4 separate regions of the Homo sapiens genome follow, and all the other regions are linked to region 3. The links come from fine-mapping of genetic effects on gene expression. A gene starts in region 3. Each other region holds a variant in brackets. All regions are shown on one strand. Distances are between the middles of the regions. Region 1 has its middle 24 kb from the start of MTAP. Region 2 overlaps MTAP (methylthioadenosine phosphorylase). Region 3 holds the start of MTAP (methylthioadenosine phosphorylase). Region 4 overlaps MTAP (methylthioadenosine phosphorylase).

The links.
Region 1: its variant is fine-mapped to the expression of MTAP in whole blood (INTERVAL, PIP 0.96).
Region 2: its variant is fine-mapped to the expression of MTAP in whole blood (INTERVAL, PIP above 0.99).
Region 4: its variant is fine-mapped to the expression of MTAP in whole blood (TOPMed, PIP above 0.99).

What each region holds. Positions count from the first base shown.
Region 1 is chr9:21,775,753-21,780,905 of GRCh38, reverse strand. No RefSeq gene overlaps it. Among named protein-coding and RNA genes, the nearest start is that of MTAP, 24 kb to the left of the region's middle. The variant C/T (reference allele first, on the strand shown) is at 3,144.
Region 2 is chr9:21,836,580-21,841,732 of GRCh38, reverse strand. MTAP (methylthioadenosine phosphorylase) reads right to left here. Exons shown (of 8, transcript NM_002451.4): 5 at 3,723-3,825. Among named protein-coding and RNA genes, the nearest start is that of MTAP, 37 kb to the right of the region's middle. The variant T/A (reference allele first, on the strand shown) is at 2,544.
Region 3 is chr9:21,800,281-21,805,433 of GRCh38, reverse strand. MTAP (methylthioadenosine phosphorylase) reads right to left here and starts at 2,798. Exons shown (of 8, transcript NM_002451.4): 1 at 2,653-2,798. The coding sequence starts at 2,685. RefSeq lists a cis regulatory region at 224-225, enhancers at 153-297, 1,956-2,165, 2,660-3,288, 3,289-3,919 and a silencer at 2,456-2,615.
Region 4 is chr9:21,827,858-21,833,010 of GRCh38, reverse strand. The region is part of intron 4 of MTAP (methylthioadenosine phosphorylase); the gene reads right to left. Among named protein-coding and RNA genes, the nearest start is that of MTAP, 28 kb to the right of the region's middle. RefSeq lists enhancers at 1-902, 770-1,079. The variant A/C (reference allele first, on the strand shown) is at 2,469.

The sequences.
Region 1 (5,153 bases), 25 kb after region 3:
TGGTGTGCTGCACCTATTAACTCATCATTTACATTAGGTATATCTCCTAATGCTATCTCTCCCCTCTCCCCCCACCCCATGACAGGCCCCGGTGTGTGATGTTCCCCGTCCTGTGTCCAAGCGTTCTCATTGTTCACTTCCCACCTATGAGTGAGAACATGCAGTGTTTGGTTTTTTGTCCTTGCGATAGTTTGCTGAGAATGATGGTTTCCAGCTTCATCCATGTCCCTACAAAGGACATGAACTCATCCTTTTTTATGGCTGCATAGTATTCCATGGTGTATATGTGCCACATTTTCTTAATCCAGTCTATCATTGATGGACATTTGGGTTGGTTCCAAGTCTTTGCTATTGTGAATAGTGCTGCAGTAAACATATGTGTGCATGTGTCTTTATAGCAGCATGATTTATAATCCTTTGGGTATATACCCAGTAATGGGATGGCTGGGTCAAATGGTATTTCTAGTTCTAGATCCTTGAGGAATCGCCACACTGACTTCAACCATGGTTGAACTAGTTTACAGTCCCACCAACAGTGTAAAAATGTTCCTATTTCTCCACATCCTCTCCGGCACCTGTTGTTTCCTGACTTTTTGATGATCGCCAAGGAATGTAGCTCCTTTTAATCTTAATCCAAATTCTATATGTGTTTATGGGGTGTAATCTCTGTACACATGCAATTTTAAACTTATTTTTTCTTTTTTCTGCATAAATATCTTTTTGATTTGGCTATATAGACTTCATGTGTTACTTTTAATAGCTCCATCAAGTTGTTGCATCATTTCCTGCAATAGTGCAAGAATGCCACATACCTTTTATAGTATTATAACGATACTTTTGTTGTAATATGTACAGGTTGTTCCTACTATTATTTTATTATATATGCAAGACGGCACTCAGATTTACCCTTGTTTTTGAGTGAGGCAAAATATAATTATATTTCATAACTGTAAAGTAATATCACAAGGAACATGTTGGAAAATTTATATTAATTCTATTGTTTTTTGCTTAAGGAACATAATTGCTAAAGATAAAATGTGAACTTTTAGAAGAATGACATTTCAATAAAACTTTCTAAAATGGTTGCCCTAAGTTACAATATCGTATTATGTGAATATTTTACAGCATGTCATCACTAGAATTTGTATTATTATTTGATAGATATAAACAAATGTTTATATCTCTTCTTGTGTGAAGTCTTGCTCATATCATTTGACCACTGAACTCTTGAAATTCTTTTCTTTTCTTTTTTATTGAGACAGAGTCTCACTCTGTCATCCGAGCTGAAATGCAGTGGTGCAATCATGAATCACTGCAGCCTTGATCTCCTGGGTTCAGGCAATCCACCCACCTCAGCCTCCAAGTAGCTGAGATTGCAGGCATGTGCACCCACACCTAGCTAATTTTTTAATTTTCTGTAGAGATGGGGTCTCCCTACATCGCCAAGGCTGGTCTTGAACTCCTGGGAGCAAGCAATCCTCCCAGGTTGGCTTCCCAAAGTGTGGAGATTAAGGTGTGAGCCACCTTGCTTGGGCGGAATTATTTTCTTATACACTTAAATTTAGATATGAACCCTTTTTTTTTTACATCTGATGAAAATAATTTTCCCTTCCATTGTAGTTTTTTGATTTACATAATTGTGATTTTTCAAATCTTTACGTATTTGAAAATTTTTCTTTGAATCTTTTTTATTATATCTGGTTTCATCCAGATAAAATTATCTTGTTCTTCTATTTTTTCTTATAAATGAATTCTTAACTTTGCGGTTTATTGTGATATGCCATATAAGAATGATTGAAAAAAAAAAGTTGCAGACCATCACGTTGAACATCTGGTATTTGGTTTTATGAGATAATAATTATAAGAAATACAATAGGATTCTACTCACTGTAGAAGCTGAGAGCAGAAGGCAGATTTTTTGAAGGGAATGTCTCTTTACTTTCCTTATTGCATTAGATCTCCCTGATCCAAACAACAAGCTCTGAGAAAGGGAAAAAAAAATCTATGCCCCAAATAGAGCAGAGTTTAGAACTAAAGACAATGCTGGCATCTCATTGTCTCCTTAGGTTAGGTGATCTAATTTATCTTTTCGTTTTATGAAATTAATCTCAAGCGAACACACTGTTCACACTTTTAAGTTAAGGGATGCTTAATGTGCTTAGTGCAAGCTAGAAATATTGATTTCTTAATGTAACACTTAAACACATATATTATTGCATCAATTCCTGGCAGAAACTATTTTAACTCTTTGAACTAGTAAAAAAGGAAAGTCCTGTTTGTGGTTAAAAATATGAGTGCATTTAGTAACACTTCCGGCCTGGTAAAATTACAATCCAGAAATGCTAACAAAAAATGTTGCCTTATTTGGTTACTTCACTTTAGCACAACAAAACCTTGTCTTTGGTTCTTTAAGCAGTTAACTTCAGTACCTCAAATGTTTCTTAATCTAGGTGCTGAAAATGAAAAGATACATAAGAAAAGATTTCTGCTGGGGCAATTTAAAGCTTAGTGCAGACAGATACAGAAAATTGATTGCAACATAATTTGGTAAATCTTAAGAACCAGACCATTTAACTGCTTGTGTCAAAGATTTTAAAGGAGACTCACAGTTTACAGTTAACAGTAGAGGGGCTATTATCCTATCTCCCTTTTGACACTGCCCCCAGCTCAACTTAAAAGGGCTTCAGAACCTCCCAGGCTCCTTTCACACCACCTCAAGCACCTAGCTCCTCAACCTGCTTCATCATCACATACCACCCAAGGATCCTATCCCAAGAAGGAGGATATACTTAGAATTAATTTTCCACCTTTCCTTTAGAGGCGATGGAACTAATCATCATGTTTCATACTCCTTTTGGCCTCAGTCACCATAGAAGTCCAAGCATTCCAGGTCACCACAGGAACTCTCCTCCATATGTTTCTGTATATCCCTTGATCTGACTCAATCTCCCATTCCTTCCAAAACTGCAATCCCTTCCAATGCAGCTGCTAGAATTCAGGGCTTGGGAAGCACAGTCTCTTTTATTTTCCAACTCTTCTTTGAACAACACCTTCACCTTCTTGCTCTAAGCCCTGGCTCACCACCCAACCCAACCCATATCCTGTTTACCTTCAGCCTTTGCAGGGGGTGGTGGTTTTTGCTC[C/T]CACACCCTATGCTTCCAGGTCCTGGAGGTGGGGATAGGAATGTTCCTTATTTCTCATTGTTTTTCTTCTTTCAAAAACCCTTCATCTCCTATCTTCCAAGCCATTCCACTTCATGATGGAAGATTTTAGCAGCTGGCTCATTGCATTTCCTTCTACCATGACTCCTGTCATCATATTTAATGACTTCAAAATTTATGTATGTCATTATTTTTCAAATTTGGCTGCACATTTTTATTACCTCATGATGTTTTAAAAATCCTACCTGTGTTCAGTTCATCCCCCAAGCCAAACAGGTACTGATTTAATTTAGTCAAGGTAGGATTTAGCCACTAGATTTTGTTTTGCTCTAAAAAAAAAAAAAAAAAAAAAAACCCCACAACACCTATGATCTCAATATGCAGCAGGGTTCAGCACTACTTACTTAGATCAGTTTCTCAGTAAGCCTTTTCAATTATTTGACCTTCTGACTCCAACATCTCTTTCTTTCCCCAACCCCATCATGTTCACCCTAGTCATACCCTAGAGTTTGTCATTATAAGTAGCCTCCAATATCTAGTTTTTCATCATTCCACTTTCTGATATTCACAGCATCTCTTTCTGACTCCTCTCTTAAGTACAACATCATTCAAGTAATCCATGGACCCACTCCCAGTCTTTGTCCTAATCATCTCCCTCGCTTTTCTTTACCTTTTTCCCTACTCGTCTTAGATTCCATGGTTTGTCACTATAACTCTTCTCTATGTACCCTCAACTCTTTTGTCCTTCTCTCTCTCCATTATATTTGCCTAGCAAAACCCAAACCCTGGTTATATTTAACTCTGCTTAATCTATATCTGCATTCAGGCAGCTAAATGGGATGAGAGAACAACACACACATTTACTTTACATTTTGGCCACAAATCTCTGGTGGGTCCTCAGCACTTCAATAAATTTTTTATAGTAGAATTCTCTGGTCAGTTCTTTGTCCAGACAACTGTTTGATATCTTCCCCCCTTTTTAAACCTCCAACATTCCCTCCTTGTCTTCACTCTCAGCTGATAACCTAGATTTTTATTTCATAAGAAAATAGAAGTAAGCAGAAGAGAACTACTTCCTTTTCCCTTTACCAAATCTACCAACCTCCTTGCTCCACACCCAAGTGTTCCATCTTCTCTTTGGTCACAGACGATAAACAGCTCCTGCAGCCTGGCTTCTCACCCCCTTCCACCTGTGCCAGGGCTTTACTCCTCTAATCATCTTTTTTCTCCTGAACATGACTCTCCCTTCTTACTGTAGATCATTCCCATCAGCTTACAAATAGACCCCCATCTCAGCAAAACAAACCCAATCCTTTCCTAGACTTCTGGTTGCACTCTAGCTCCAGTTGCATTCCTCAACTCTTCTTCATAGCAAGTTTCTTGAGACTTTTCTGTACTCGCTCTCACTTTCTCACTTCTCATCTCTTTAGCCCACTCAAGTTGGGATTTAGTCCTCATCACTCTCCTGAAATTGCTCTGTCAAAATCACCAGCAATCTCCCTGTTGCTAAGAGCAGCAGTTAATTTTCAATCTTCATTTTATGCAGCCTCACAGCAGATTTGGCACAATCATCATCCACCCTGAAGCATTTTCTTCTCGAGCCCTTCTGGATACCACTATCTCCTAGTTGTTGTTCCATCACACAGCTGTTGCATCCTGGTTTTCTCTGCACACTCTACCTTTCTCAATATTAGAGCACTCCAGCTTGATGTTCTTGCTTGGTCCTGCCTTCTTCACTGCCTGTACTCACTCCCTAGACCATTTCATCCAGGCACATGGCCTCACACAGCATCTTCATGCTGATGATAATCCCCCTCCGTCCTTTCTCCTAAGCTCTAGGTTTAAATATCCAATTGCCTAGTAGGTACATTCATTTGTGTATCTAAGAAGCATAACATGTTAAAACCAAAATTTTTTTTTCTTCTCACATCTGCTCTTTATATGGATTCCCCTTGGCTTATCCATCCCCTAAACTGCACAATCAAATGTCTA
Region 2 (5,153 bases), 36 kb before region 3:
TCTCCCCTTTCCCCTAGGGATGGGGCTTCCTGAGAGCTGGACTGCAGTGACTGTTATTGCTCTTCTGGGTCTAGCCACCCATTGAGGCCACCAGGCTCTGGGCTGTTGCTGGGGGATGTCTGCAATGAGTACTGCGATGTGATCCATCTTCAGGTCTCCAAGCTGTGGCTACTAGCACCTGCTCTGGTAGATGTGGCAGGGAAGTGAAGTAAACTCTGCAAGAGTCATTGGTTGTAGATATGTTTAATGTGCTGGCTCTCTTGAATGCTGCTTATGCTAGCAGTGAAGTTGTCATGTGGACATATTCAGGATCTCTGGTTAGCCAGGATGTTGCAGGCAGTGAAATTAGGTGTTGTCTTTTCCGTCCTGGGATCAGGGTTATTGTTTTATGAGTTGCTGTAATGGCCTCAGTTGACTGGCCTCCAGCCAGGAGGTGGCACTTTCAAGAGAGCACCAGCTGCAGAAGGAGTAGGGGGCTCTAAGCTTGCCCTAAGATGCCCAAGGTAACTATTTTGGTTTCCCAGGCAATAGGCAGGGCAATAAATATTTTGTGTTTGGCTACCAGGGTGGGTAGGGAAATACCATCAGGTTGGGGCAGGGTTAGGTGGTTCTGGGCTCAGACTCTTCTTGGGCAGGGCTTGCTGCAGACACTGTGGGAAATTGGGGGATGGGGGTGGTTTGTCAGGCCACTGGGTTTATGTTCCAGAGGAGATCTTGACTGCCTCTGCTGTATCATAAACTTTACCAGGGTAGTGGGGGAGAGCCAGCAGCAAGAGGCCTCATCCAGCTACTATGCAGTTGGTGAGGCTAGTCTCACTCCTGCAGTGCCCTGCTCAGACCTTGCCCCAGGCTGTGAGCTACCCCACTGGGAAAGCAAGCATGGCCTTTGGACCTCACCCCTTCCCACCTGCCCACTCCATCAGCAGCAGCTCCTGTACTCACTTGTATCTGCTGCGGCTCCCATTAGTCCCTTGGACTCTGCCTGAGAAAATTTGTGACCAGCTGAAACCACTACTGATTTCATTTGGGAGCTTCCTTCGCCCTGCCATCACTCTCCAATTCCACTGGCTGCCTTACCTGAGGGCCACTGTGAGATATAGTCAGGGCTGGCTTCCCTGGACTCAAGCTGGAGACTGGGAGTACATCCAAAGCACTTCCTGTTGCTACTTCTACTTTCATATTTCACATAACCCCCTAAATCCGTTTCACCTCTAGGTAAGGTTAAATTCTTCCTCCATGATCTGGATTTTTAGATTTCCCCAGTGGGGATGTGTATTCAGAGGTAGGTTCTCCCCGACTCACACTTTGGGAACTCAGTTTCTTGCCTGTTTTGCAGAATTTGCAGTGGTGTGCCACTTCTTTCAAAGGATCTTTGAATTCTTTTGGTTTTCCCGGTAAGTTCCTACAGTGGTTCTTGGAACAAAAGATCATAGTGTCTCCATATGCTATTCTGTCCGTCCTTGTGGAAGCTGCACGTTAGCCCTGTCTTTTCTTTACTTTTTTTTTTTTTTGACATGGAGTCTCTGTCACCCAGGCTGGAGTGCAGTGGCACAATCTTGGCTCACTGCAAGCTCTGCCTCCCAGGTTCAAGCGATTCTCCTGCCTCAGCCTCCCAAGTAGCTGGGACTATAGGTGCCTGCCACCATGCCTGGCTAACTTTTCGTATTTTTAGTAGAGACAGGGTTTCACCATGTTAGCCAGAATGTTCTTGATCTCCTGACCTCATGATCCGCCTGCCTTGGCCTTCCAAAGTGCTGGGATTACAGGCGTGAGCCACCGTGGTGGCCAGCCCTGTCTCTTATCTGCCATCTTCCCTGTTTCCTGTTACCAGCTTTTTTTGTTAACTTTCCAAAAATATTTTATTTGTATATAAATATTTACATACTTACTTCTTTGTATATATACATACTTTAACATAAATGGTAGAATATGGTACAACCACTGAGTATCTTGCTTGCCACTTGACAATTCATCATGACAGTCCTATTCCATCAGTACATGAAAGATCATGTGGATGTTAAAAGTGAAAATTACCAAGTGGCAGCACTATTTACTCTTCATGTTTTTGGATAATATTTAAAAATTTCTTTCTGAATGCTTATTTTGCCATTTTCTTAAATTGCCTTTCCCAGTATTCTCTCAGTCTTTATGAAGCTGAATTAATTTGGCTTCAAGGGAGGCTAACTTGGATTACTGGAAATTATCACCACAGACCCACATTTACATGTGCTCTATACAGCTCCATTGTGCTTTCCCCATCTACCTCTACTCCTAGTTCCCCAAGTCACTGTATTTTGCCTGAGAACTGACCTCAGATTCATACGAGCATGCATATTCTCTCCTTAGACTATTTCTTCCCAAGCTGCCCCCATTTTGAAGTGGACAAGAATTTTATCCATACTTCATTTCCCCCAGGATAGCAAATCTATTATGTGGACAGATCTGTGCTTCAGAGGAAGACTAGCAGCATTCTGATACATTCTGTGGATAACTATCCAGAAACATGCTATACATACATATACAAACTTCGCCTGCCACTTTTT[T/A]AAAAAAAAAAAAAAACCAAGTAAAAGACGTACTTTCCTAGAAGTCAGAGAAAATCAATGCGCAGTGGTATCTCCGAAATGGCTTCCCTCAGTACTCGGTTTTAGATTCCAAATTCTTGTTTGAGACTAGAAATATTTCTCCCAACCCTGTGTCCTCAGTTTAGGTGCCCTTGCTGTTAACTATAAGGAAATGGGTTTTCTGTGATTATGTAGGATAAAACATAAATGCTAAAAGAAATCATCTACTCTCTATATGCAGGTGTTAACATTATCTGAATAACTAACGTGTTTAGGTATTTATATTCTCTAAGTTAACTCATAAGGGAGATTTTATGAAGCAGTTAATCTCTAACGATACTTCTGATCTTTTGAGTTGCACCTGACTTTCAAACCTGGGATTATAAGAGAAGTAGCACATGTGGACCAAGCCATAGGCTTCTTAGTCATGGTAGCCATTTTTGTTGCTTGGGAACTAAAACTGTGATTCCACCCCTTATACCACCACTGGCCCTTGTGGGGCTGTCCCCATAGTTCTGTGATTTGGCTATAATGGTAGACAGAAGGCTGGGCAGTAATGGCCAAACTCAGGTCAAAGGCAACAGCTGCCAATCTGACCATTTTTAGAAGATCAATAATAGTAATTTAATTCACAAAAGCAGTTACCAGCCATTGGATGTTCCATAACTGACAGGCATGGTTCAGAGACTTCATTAAGTATTAACTCTCTCATCCCTCACACAGTCTTATAAGGTACATGCTATAATTATCTTCATTTTAGAAGTAAGATAACTGAAACCCACATATGTCAAATAATTTGTCCTCTTGGACACAGCTACTTTGTTGAAGAGCAGAGATTTGATCCTAAGTAATCTGGCTCCAGACTGCATACTCTTGAGTAATGTGATATTCTATGTTAAATCATTTTATCTAGATAGCAAAATCAAAACTTATTAAAAAGGTAGGTTGCAACTTTGAGTGGTTCAGCTTAAAATGACTGAGAGTAACAGAGGAACAGGAAATTATTAGCAACAGGAAATAACTCTTCATAAAACTTTGCATAATACAAAGCAAACTTGAGTGAGGGTATGGGGCCACTCGCTCTGCCAATTAACCAAATGCCAGATGCCACCCCAAGCCCACATGATTTATTCTGGTACACCTTCCAGAAAGACTACACACCTCTCTCGTTTTGGGGCAAAACGGCTCAGCCATTGGAATATGGCACACTCCTCTGGCACAAGAATGACTTCCATCATAGAAGGACTGAGGTCTCATAGTGGTCCTACAAAATAAAGCAAAAAAGGTTTTTGTTTGTTTTATTTTAAGGCCATCTTTCCATCCTCCGAGGGCTGGTGAGTCAACTTTATCTAGGTCAATATTTGGGTCTTTACTCCAGACTCAATTCCTCTGGATAAGCTAAAGACAATTGTTTACAAAAGCTTCAGGGTGGTATTCCGCTTTTTTGGCTCTGGGCTGGCAGCAACACACCGCACAACAAGAATTAAAGTGTCTGTGGTCTGGCAGCCGTGACGGGGTAACCACTTTGGATTGCAGGTGCAACTCAACTGTGGGCTCAGAAAGGCCAGGTAAGACACTTAAGAAGTCAATACAAAAATGTTTCATCATCACAGACGTGGAAAATCATATACTTAACACCATATACACATCACCCAGATTCAACAATTTCTTAAATTGTGTCCAACTTGCTTCCTCTATTAGCTTTTTCACAAACACAAATCCCAGGCTTTGACTCAGAGCAGATGCAAATTTCCCCAATGTCTTAAAAAAATTTGTTTTTAAACAGTTGCTTTGTTAGTTTCAGGGTCCAAACAAGGTACTTACCTTGCATTTAATTCCCATGTCTCTAAGAGTAATTCCTGCCTGTAACCCCAACTATATTTTTTCATGCCAGTGACCCACTGAAATAAAGAGCCACTTGTCTTGCTCCATATTTAGGAATCTTTGTTCGCTGCCTCATTTAGATTGTTCTTTTTCCCAGCCGTAATTAATTCTAAAGTGTCTTAGTTCAAGTCTTCTGACAAAACAGTTTTGAATCCATAAGAGAGGCTAAAATTAATCTAGCACCAAGTCACCTGGAAATTTCTTGTCAGAAGTTTTCAGAACAAGCCACTTTCTCTGTGCATTCAATTATTCTAAATTTGAACTGATGAGTAACACAGGGAGGAGGGGACAGCATGGGAGAGATGGGTCAAGGGAAGCCAACAGGGGCAGGTAGATAACATGATGTCCTCTTCCAGGGGTGGGAGGCAGCACTGAGAAATAGTTTCACTGGTTCCGTTTACACAGCTGGCAAGTCTACTGGCCAAAATTAACCTGTTACTTCTAGTTCATCACACACTAAACAGTGGCATTAGCTGGCACCAAGGCCACCTCACTCAGAAATAAGGCCTCAGCGCTCTGGAGGAACAAAAACCCCATCCGAGCTCCTCCCAACCCACTGTCATATGCGCTTTAGGGGAAATGCTAAGTTAACCCCAAAGCAATTCCAGATGGAGTTGAAGAACAGGTCAAATGACTGTTTCAGCCTGTATAAACAGAGGCTTTTCTCTTTTTGAAAGATTAACCAATAAAACGGTGACACGTACTCAA
Region 3 (5,153 bases):
AGAATATAAACTTGAAGAAAATAAATAAAGGCCTCGCTTACTCAAAGCTGCATCCCCATTGTCTAGCAGGTATTCAATAAATATTTTTGAATAGGATTCCACCAGTAGATGGCTAGATTTGAAAGATATGCCAAATATACTGCCAATCCAAAACTCAGTGGAATCTTTCACTTGCATGAGTTAACTGCACCTCTAAAATTGAGAATGAATTTAAGATCCACCCCGTTAATATCTCTATTTTAAGAAGAGAGGTACTTGGGCTGACATTAAAGGAGTACCTGGAACTGGGCTGAGTGTGTTACATGTTACTGTATTTAAATCCAGCAACCTCTCAAAGGACCTGCCAGTGACACCAATGGGGTTCAGACACACATGTGCCTCCTATACCTATACCTGGGTGGTGTGCAGTGGGCACTGGAGGCAGCCTGCTTTCTGCATACCCTCTGCCTCCCTCTTCAAGATGGACATTCTATCAAGTGCTCATTTTAATTGTGCATTAGGTCACAAGAAAACAGGGCAGAGACCACACTTCAGATTTCAGAAATGCCTCACATCTAGTTGGTGGAATGCCAGGCTCTAGGCCCAATTCTGTCATTATCTAGGTCCAGCTGTGTAATTCTGGATACTTAGCTGACCTTTCTGGGCCTCAACTTTACACCCGCAAAACGGGTTTGTGTGGCTATATGGATGGTCTTGAAGGAACACTCCAGCCCCATCATTCTATAATTTGGGAATAGGATGTGGTTTTTATTAACCTATTTTGCTCTGGACACTGGCACCTCACATCTTCTATACAGAATGTTGCCTTAGAAGTCTGGGGAATACGGTGCTGGCATCATGGAATCTCTACGGCAAAGCTGTCATCTGTTCTAAATTAAAAGAGAAATCAGCAGGCAGTCCTAGCACCATATGTACCTCTTAATTTTATATCCAGAAGCTTGCCAAGACCAAAAATACACACTATTCAATATTTACATCAGGTCTCTGAGAATCCCATTGCCCATTCTGCACTTAAATGCACTGCATTAATTTGAAGGGAAACCCTGTGGCAGGGAGAATGCTAACCAGATTAAAGTAAGACTGTTTTAAACACCATTTCTCCATTTTTAATGGCGCTTGAAGTGTATTCCTGCAAGGATAAGGTGAAAAGTTGTGGCCTAATGATACCTAACACAATAACTTAATAATTTTTGGGGAAAAGATCATTCAAAATTAATCTCAGTTCCCCCACTTATAAGCACTACCACTTAATAAGCTTCTACCATGTGCAACATAGACAATATAATTCTAGCCCTCCTAGCAAATTCTGCAGTAAAATTCTCAGTTTATAGATGAGCACCTAAGAGAAGTCACATACTTCACACGAGTTTCATGAAAACCATTTCTGCCTTGTTTCCGCCAAACAATGAAGGCAGGGGAGAGGCCTTCTATAAATATTTGCTGGATGCAAGATTCTTTTCAAAATGACAAAATAAGTTTCATATATAAGTCTGGATGCAACACCCTTCACCATTCCTCTCATTCTAAGTGGCTCATTTAAACCTGCAAGGGCGTAATAAACTAATCTGGCTGATTACACACTGACCGCAGAAATTCGCCTTCTCCCGGGAAAACTGCAGTCGAGTGTAGGGAATCGAGATGCTTTGGAGAAGATCGCAGACCTTCCTATCCCATAGGCCAAAAATTTCTAAAAATCAAACAAGAACGCATTCTTAGCCAGTAATAAACTGCCTAGAAGAGGTCTTAAGTTTTATCATCAATTTTTCTTTACGTGCTGTAATTCTCTCTCGGAATACTAACCAGGAGAGAAGTGTTTAAAACCCCAGGGAAGCCAGCTGCTACTCTCAGAACTCGTGCCCTCCTCAGCACAAAGCTTCCCACCGCACAATGACCCCTTGTATCAAGGCCTCTCAGGGCCTAGGGCACAAGGAAATTGAACTCTAACTTGCAAGGCTGCAAAACAAAGCAGTTTCAAGCCAGAGGCCTCCAAACAGTGCAGCCCTAAAAACGGACGCCTGTACTCCTTTTCGAAGAAAGTCTCAGAATTCTTACAGTATTACGCTGCTGGGGAAAACTTCAGCGCGGAGAAGGCCTACGTTTGGAGGAAAAAGAAGCCGGAAGCATACAAAAGAGCAAGTAAGCAGTTCTCCCACGTGGGCCGCAGGCAACAAGCAGAGTCAGAGAGCGGAAGCTGGAGTCCCGCAAGGCACCAGGAGACGGTCACAGAAGCTGCAGGCGCCCGGACACCTCCTGACTCCAGCCGGGTGTCTTTCTTGGAAGAAGAGTGGTTCTCAGGAATGGTGGTGGCATGGGTGCAGCCTCTCCCATCCACGACCTCTCTCTCTAAAGGGGTGCCTACGCCCTACAGGGTGCGGGTGCAGATAAGCCAAAAGGTGGTGTGTGTGTGTGTGTGTGTGTGTGTGTGTGTGTGTGTGTGTGTGTGTGTGTTGGCGGTGCGGCAGGGGGATCATTTGCAAGCGTACCCTCTCCTCGCGCGGCAAGTGAGTCCCGAGTGCCGCGCCCCAGTCCCTCCCCGCGGCGGCAAGGGACGCACGGGCCGGGCGCATGGCCCCCGGAGGCGCGGTCCCCCGGCGCGGGGGCGAGAAGGCATCCGGCAGGGCGAACCGCTGCGGCTGGGAGGGCTCATCTCACCTTCACGGCGGTGGTGGTGGTGCCAGAGGCCATGTCTGCACGGGAAAGGAATCTGCAGTGGGCGAGCGCTCGGGACTAAGGGAACCAAGCGAGCCACAGAGCGGTGGCTGTGCCAACCTCACTGCGCGGGAGTGAGCAGTGCGGAGACCAGGGGCGGGCCTTGACTCCTCCTCTTCCTCCCCGGGACAGCTGGATTGGCTGCTTGTGTGGGATCTCCCCCGCCACCCCTTCCCCAAATCGAAGTTCCCGCGTTCCGCCCCTTTTGCAGACCTTTCCGGTTCTCCAGGTTTTTGTCGTTTTTTTTTTTTTTTTATCCCCAGTTATAACTAACGGATAATGATAATAATGGAGACCATTTATAGAGCGCTGTATTGTTCCAGACTGTGTGTTTTGCACTTTAATTGGCTTACTTAACTTTCGCTAAAACCTTATAAGGAAGAGCAGCACTCCCTGCTTGGCCCAATATTAGTGGCGTCGGAGGCCTCAGCTGCAAAATCTGGCCCGGCGGCATTCCAGAAGTTCTCGCGGGAGGGAGAATCCTCACCAAGGCGGGTACTGGCCGGCCACGGAGATTCTCTTAGGCAGCTAACGCGGGGCGGCCGCCGCGGCGGGGGCAAGATTTGTCCTTCCTGCGGCTGCGAACCCACCGCGGGTTTGCGTATTTCCCTTGATTCCTGGAGGACAGAGCTGGGATGGACTTGACCCAAGACTCAGGGATGACGAAAGGGAAATAAACAGAGTAACGTAGTACTGGATAATCTTTCTGATTTACGAACTATGATTTACTCATCTTCAATTTGAGGGGCCGCTTTTAGGGGGTTGAGACCTTGCACAACTCCCAGTCTGGCTCTACCTGGCTGGGGGCATCTTTAACCCGTTCTACGCCGGAGCGGCATCGAATACACCTGGATTCAGAATCCAAACTCAGGTCTCCGTCATTCAACACTAGCAGGACGCACACACACACACACCACGAGCCCTTTACAGGGATAATCCCTCATGCTTACAGCCCCCGTCCCTTCCCTACTGGGGTAATCCAATTTAACCTTCCTTGATGGATTAAGCGTTCTGAAACAAAATAATGGGTGGCAAGGATCTTAAGGGTGGACTCTGAGATGTAGAAATGCTGCAAATTAGCCTGGACGTGGGAGGAGGGCCGAGAAAGGGGATGCTTTCCTCTTTCCTTACAGCAGCAAAACACGGAAACAAAACACAAGTACAATTTAATTCAAAATACCACTGTGTGATGTTAGCCTGGATGCTGCTCATAGAACCTATTTACTTAAACAGTATAGACTTTCGTCCTCACATTACTATAAGCTTTAGGTCTAAATTTTCTCACAATGTAAAGTTTTCTTTCTTCTGTTACAATCATCTATTTCTTTTAAGTTATAAAATGCAATGGCAAAAGAAGAATGAAAGTAGAATCCGGGTGCTCCTTTGAGGAATAGGAGACAGGGAATCCTTCGCGGATGAAGACAATGTAGCTTTCTAGGGGCCTTTCTGCCGATTGCTCTATTGAGGAGCAGGAAGCCCACCACTCAGAAGTGAACCATTGAGGGCACAGGGATGCCCTAGGCTTTATGGCCGCTACCTAAGTAGGGGATCCTAGCCAACTTAAGTGACTTGATATGGTTAACAAGTCCAGTTTCTACTCAGCACTGCCTCTCTGCTAAAAGTTAGACGTTGTAACCAAGTTAGATCCTGTAAGCATAAAATACCCCTAGGCATAGGAGTTGGAAACTTGGCGAGGACCAGGCTGGACTTCTGGACTTTTCTACTATAACTTGCAGGTTAGGGCTCAAGCATTTGCTCTTGAAGATGTGATGTCTGTGAAGAGGAAATTCTTCTAAAGTTTGAATTTCATGTAAACTTACATGTGACAAAATATTATTCTACTTTTGATATTTTCTCAACCACTTAAGATTGTAAAAAAGCATTCTCAGTTCAAAGCTGTACAAAAACAGGTGGAGAGCTGGGTTTGGTCGAGGTCTTGGGCCATTGTTTTCCGCTCAGGGTAGTGCCTGAATCAGACGACCCCTTGCTACCCAGACTTGGATAACCCTTGGGCAGTCCTGTGGGACAGTGCTTTCTTTAGTGCAGTATCTTTGAAAAGGTAGGCAGTAATATTTTTGCCTTATTTCCAAATTTTGGGTCATGTTTTTTCTTAACAAGCCCTAAAATAAAAGGAAGACAAAATTTTCAATAATTTTGAATACGCAAAAATTTTCAGTGGTCTCCCTTTTTGATTACTATGTCAACAAGACAAGGAGAGTCGGTCTATTTGTGAACATAGATTTTGCCCTGCCCTTCTGTTCTTATCCTATAAATCCCCCTCTGTTAACCTGTACCCTTGCTTTTCTAAAGATAATTATCAAGAACTAGGTCACCTTACAACAATTCTGATTATGAAACAGTATAAGGATTCCAACAGCTTCTCCCTTTTTGATAATCTCTCATAAATGTCTTCCCAACTTCTAGGTCCTAGCCAACAAAGTACT
Region 4 (5,153 bases), 28 kb before region 3:
TCATGAGATCATGCTAAACAATAGCACAAAAATAAAAATCCTCACTCTACATAGGTGGTGACAACAACCTCTTTGGGCCTCAGTTTTCTCACCTTTTGTAAAAGGGAAGGATAAGGTAGATAGAAGATGTCTTCTAGAGCTGTGATAATAAGCAGTGCCAGAAACATAGTAAGGGCCTAAGTTTCTTCAAGTATAAACTGGAATAATGACTGCTGTATGCCGTAAGTGGGATTAACTGATTGTGACACCTAATAGGAACTCAAAAACTGGTAGTGTAGGATTTTTAATAAAAGGATGTATGATGGGAAGTTAATAACACAACTAGGTTATGGAACAGAACGTAAGAATGAACCTCATCCAGGGGAATAGTGGACACCACTTCAAGGACAGCTACAGACAAGAGGATGACAAAGAACAGGGACGCAAGTAACTGGGGAAAGGGAAGGTGAAGGAAGGTGAAGAGTTTATGCTTAAGTTTCTGTCTTCTCTATAAAGGTGGAGGTGACATTCTCAGCTAAAGAGTGAGGGAAATGAGTAAGAAGAAGTAAGAACAGTAAGGGTTAAAAACAGCTTACTATTTTTAGCAATGAGAGAAAGAGCTAAACAAAGGCTTCTTGCGTAACTCTTTACCATAAAACGCTTTCTAGTCATCAAGAGGCAGAAAGAGAATGATCAAATACTTGACATCAGAGCATACTCCCAACCTCAGGGCCCAGACACGGGCCTTTATGCTATGACATAAAGTTCTAGGGGAAGCCCAAGGCAGGGCTGGTCTCTGGGAGAAGGAAACAGACTGACATAACTGATCCCTCAGCACTGTGTTTATAGCGGGACTTTCCTGATGAGTAAGAATGCGTGACAAAAGCAAAGTCGAACCTCTCCCAGTTCTACCAAGAAAATAAGTTGAAGAAATAATCTGAAGAGGGGAGGATACCAGAACTTTTAGGAATCAATTCAACACCCTCATTTAGCAGATGAGGACACTAAGTGACAAAGGAATTTCACGGCACAGCCAGGAAAGAATTCTGGATGTCCTCACTTCTAAGCTGAGATTCTTCCACTGCATTCTTTGAGAAGGCATAACCCAAACACAGGCCTTAGGCACAACAGGCCAATATGTTATTAGCCACATTTTATAGAAACTGTTTAGCACCGGGAATCACACTCTGCTTCCTTTAATATTCAGTTTTTGGTCATATTTTTCTCATTGTAAAAAAAAAAAAAATCAATATCTGCAAAACATTCCTGATAAAGAAGACTATTAAAAAAGAAATCTCATCCTTCTCCTTACTGATATGTTTGCAAGTTTCACCTTGAGATATTTCTGACAGTGATAGCAGTTGAGCAAGTCCTACTCATCTGATCCTTTTCTAAAAAATATGTAGCTGGGTGCAGTGGCTCATGCCTATAATCCCAGCACTTTGGGGAGGCCAAAGCAGGAAGACTGCTTGAGGCCAGGAGTTTGAAACCAGCCTGGGCAACATAGTGAGACCCCATCTCCTTAAAAAAAAAAAATTACCAAGCACAGTGGCAGATTCCTGTAATCCTAGCTACTAGACGGGCTGAGGATTGCTTAAGCCCAGGAGGTAGAGGCTACAGTGAGCTGCGATCAGGCCACTGCACTCTACCCCGGGCAACAGAGAAAGATCCTATCTAAAAAAACAACAAAAAAATACAATGTGGGCATCTTTTCAAATAGTTTATAGATCTAGTTGTTTTTCTTAGATTTGCATAATAAATATGGTGTACTGATTTCCTACAATCATCAGGATTAATGGTAAAGAGAAAGAAGAGCAACTGTAGAAATTGCTGGAATCCCCTGTCCATGTATCTTTAATGGCATGGACAGTTAGTAGTTGGGGGTGAAAGAAAGGCCATATCATCAGTTCTGCCATACATACAAATGAATGTGCAAAGGTATCTAACAAGAACTGGGCTAGAAAATGGAGGGCCCATGTACCACAAGTACAGGAGGAGACAACAAAATGCCTCATGACTTGAATAAAGCAGCTGGCAGGGAAACAGTCTTGCTTTGCTCCAATGGCAAAAATCTCATTAAAAACCAATCCTGTGCACCACTTTATAATGCATCATCGAAGTCGAGCTTTACAAGTCCGGTGGGTGTGGGAGGCAGGAAAGAGTCATGCCTTTCTTCTCCATGGCTGATGAATAAAAACTAAGCAAAGGCCCAGTGATGCATAGTCATGCTTCTACATTTCTCTAAGTCTCATTTACTTTGACTCTTTTATGAGGTCTTTTTTCCCCTATTAATAGAAAAACTTGCTTCAGTTTCCCATAAGTGACTCAGTGAGAGCCAGGTGTGCATACATACAAGGGTGTGTACCATAGGAGAGAAGTTCCAAAATTATGAATCTGGGAGTACATATCTTATGAGAGCCTTTTAATGTATAAACAGCCTGATGACATTCTTTTAGGACAGACTAAAGGTCAAATACTTTCCCCAGTTC[A/C]AACTGACTGTTTAATCGCTGCAAAGAAGTGGAACAAATCCCACTCCTAACCATCTTTTACCCTCAGTGGCCAAATGACTTGTGGCTCTAACAATGGGGACCTTGTACAAGTTAAAAGAAATGGATTAATCAAACACAATCCAGCAGGAGGCATAGGCACTGAAGAAACCTACTGCAGACAAGCCTCCTAGACAAAGTTCTTGGTATAGATTCTGATTTTCCTATTTTTAATTTTTGGTTTGGGAAGAACACTACACACAGAGCCCAGGGCCTATGGCAAGGAAGCATCAGGAAACTCGTCCCTGTGCAACAAAAACGGGAAAATGAAAAATATAACACATTCTTTTGGAATTTAAGTTCTAGACCAAGATATATGTTGCTTTCTATGGATGCTCTACTCACAAATGAAAGATGATTATTTTCACTTTAATTGCTATGGAATTTACTTGAATGAGAAAGACACAAAGACTGACTGCACATACCCAAACATACTTGAACCCACTGCACTCTCTACCTCTTTTTCCAGGGCAGTCACACCCAGGGCTCCCCTTTTCTTATGCCCAGGCTTTTTAACTTCATCAGCTGTAATGTAGCATGAGAGAGAGAAGAAAAAAAAAGATTTTCAGATAAGAATGACATTTTTCTTAAAAGAGCTTCCAGCATTGTCAGAGTCCTTCAAAAGTATATTTCATTATTAGAGAAGAAATCTAATGTTTCTAAAAACAACCCTAAAAATCAGCCACATGTCTTTCTTAAATCTGAGGTTGGTCCCCCCGCCCTGCTCATGCTGGCACTGAAGGAAAAGAAAATGATGTGCTTTAGCTTGGCCATCTATAAAATAAGAATAGCCGTATTATTAAACAATCTCGCTAGCCTTTGAAGAACACTTTAGGATGAGGATTTTTTTTTTTTTCTGAGACAACGTGCTGACAAACTTACGGCAATAGGCCAATGTGTGTGGTTCTAGGTAAGTCCCTGGAGAGAATACACGGGCAGTGTAGGGAAAAGGAGCCTGGCCAGGCACAGTGGCTCACACTTGCAGTGAGCCGAGATTGCATTACTGCAGTCTAGCCTGGGCAACAGAGTGGGACTGTCTCAAAAAAACAAACAAACAAAAAAAAAAAACAACAAAAGAATGAGAGAGAGAGATGGTGCAATTCAGCCCTCCATTGGGAAGAAAGAACCAACGTGTAGTGGGTAAAGTGATTTGCACAGGGCCAAACAGAGTCAAGATGAAACCTCCTGATTCAATGCTCCTGCCCCAGCTGCCCTGGAATTCTATAATCCACGGGGTGGCTTTACAGGATGTTACAATCCTGTTAAACAAGTTGGGGCTGTGGGTATGACTCTGGGAAACCCCAGGCTAAAAATGGCACAGCCTATTTGTATCTGATGCCATCAGCAAGTGGAGGTAGGAGATGCCCGTCTCAATACACCAAGATTCACTTTACTAAGAAATGTGCTATCAGTAAAACACATAGAGGGCATTAACCACAAGGCATCTTCTGCTATGAGATGTTCAAACACATAATGAATGATATATATGCAAGGCATCTTCTGCTATGAGATGTTCAAACACATAATGAATGATATATGTGCTCAAGCCTGGTTAACTGGAACCCACTCAGCTCAATCAAAGGCAGCAGCACTTAAAAGATGCATCCAACAGCAATATGATGTTAGCCACCTACATAGTTTTAAAATTTCTAGTGGTCACTGAAAAAGTAAAAGAGAAACAGGTAAAATTAACTTTAAAATCTTGTCTAACCTAATATATTCAAAACGTTATCACCCCAAATAAGTAATCAATGTAAAAATTGAGATTTCATGCTAAATTATATTCTCTTAGGGATCCTTCTTTTTTTTTGAGATGGAGTTTCACTCTTGTTGCCTAGGCTGGAGTGCAATGGAGCAATCTCGGTTCACTGTAACCTCTGCCTCCTGGGTTCAAGCAATTCTCCTGCCTCAGCCTTCCGAGTAGCTGGGATTACAGGTGCTCACCACACCTGGCTACTTTTTTTTTGTATTTTTAGTAAAGACGGGGTTTCACCATGTTGACCAGGCTGGTCTCGAACTCCTGACCTCAGGTGATCTGCCTGCCTCAGCCTCCCAAAATGTTGGGATTACAGGCGTGAGCCACTGCACCCTGCCAGGGATCCTTCTTTTAACAGATTCTTTCCTCCTGTTGTTGTAAAGTAGTGTCAACTAGTGGACCCTCCAGCCAGTATGCACACACTCTCAATAATGGCACTCAGTTACTGAGAAGGTTAACACATGCAAGATCCCACAAAAGGCACTTATTAGAGACTTTGAACTTCCAAGGAAACATTAAGAGGGCAGGTTATCCATATGTCTCATAAACAGAAAAATAGTAGAAGATCTTAAGGTTACCTGGCTAAGATAGAATGAAACCAGATCTGATGGCAATACCTGTTTTCTTTCTAGTCTCCATCTTCTGACCCAACTGCTTTCTTGAAAGAGCCAGTATGTGAAACATCTACATTTAAGACATGTGAGTAAAAGATCTGGGAAATGCAACAGCGTATAGTCATACTGTTTAAGTAACAGATTAACCCAAGGCTCAGTGCCCAATTCAGACTTTACAGTATCATCTGTAATACTTTATACATCTGGATCATCCTGAATATGGAGTTTTGTATTCCACTCTATTTAGCAATCATATTA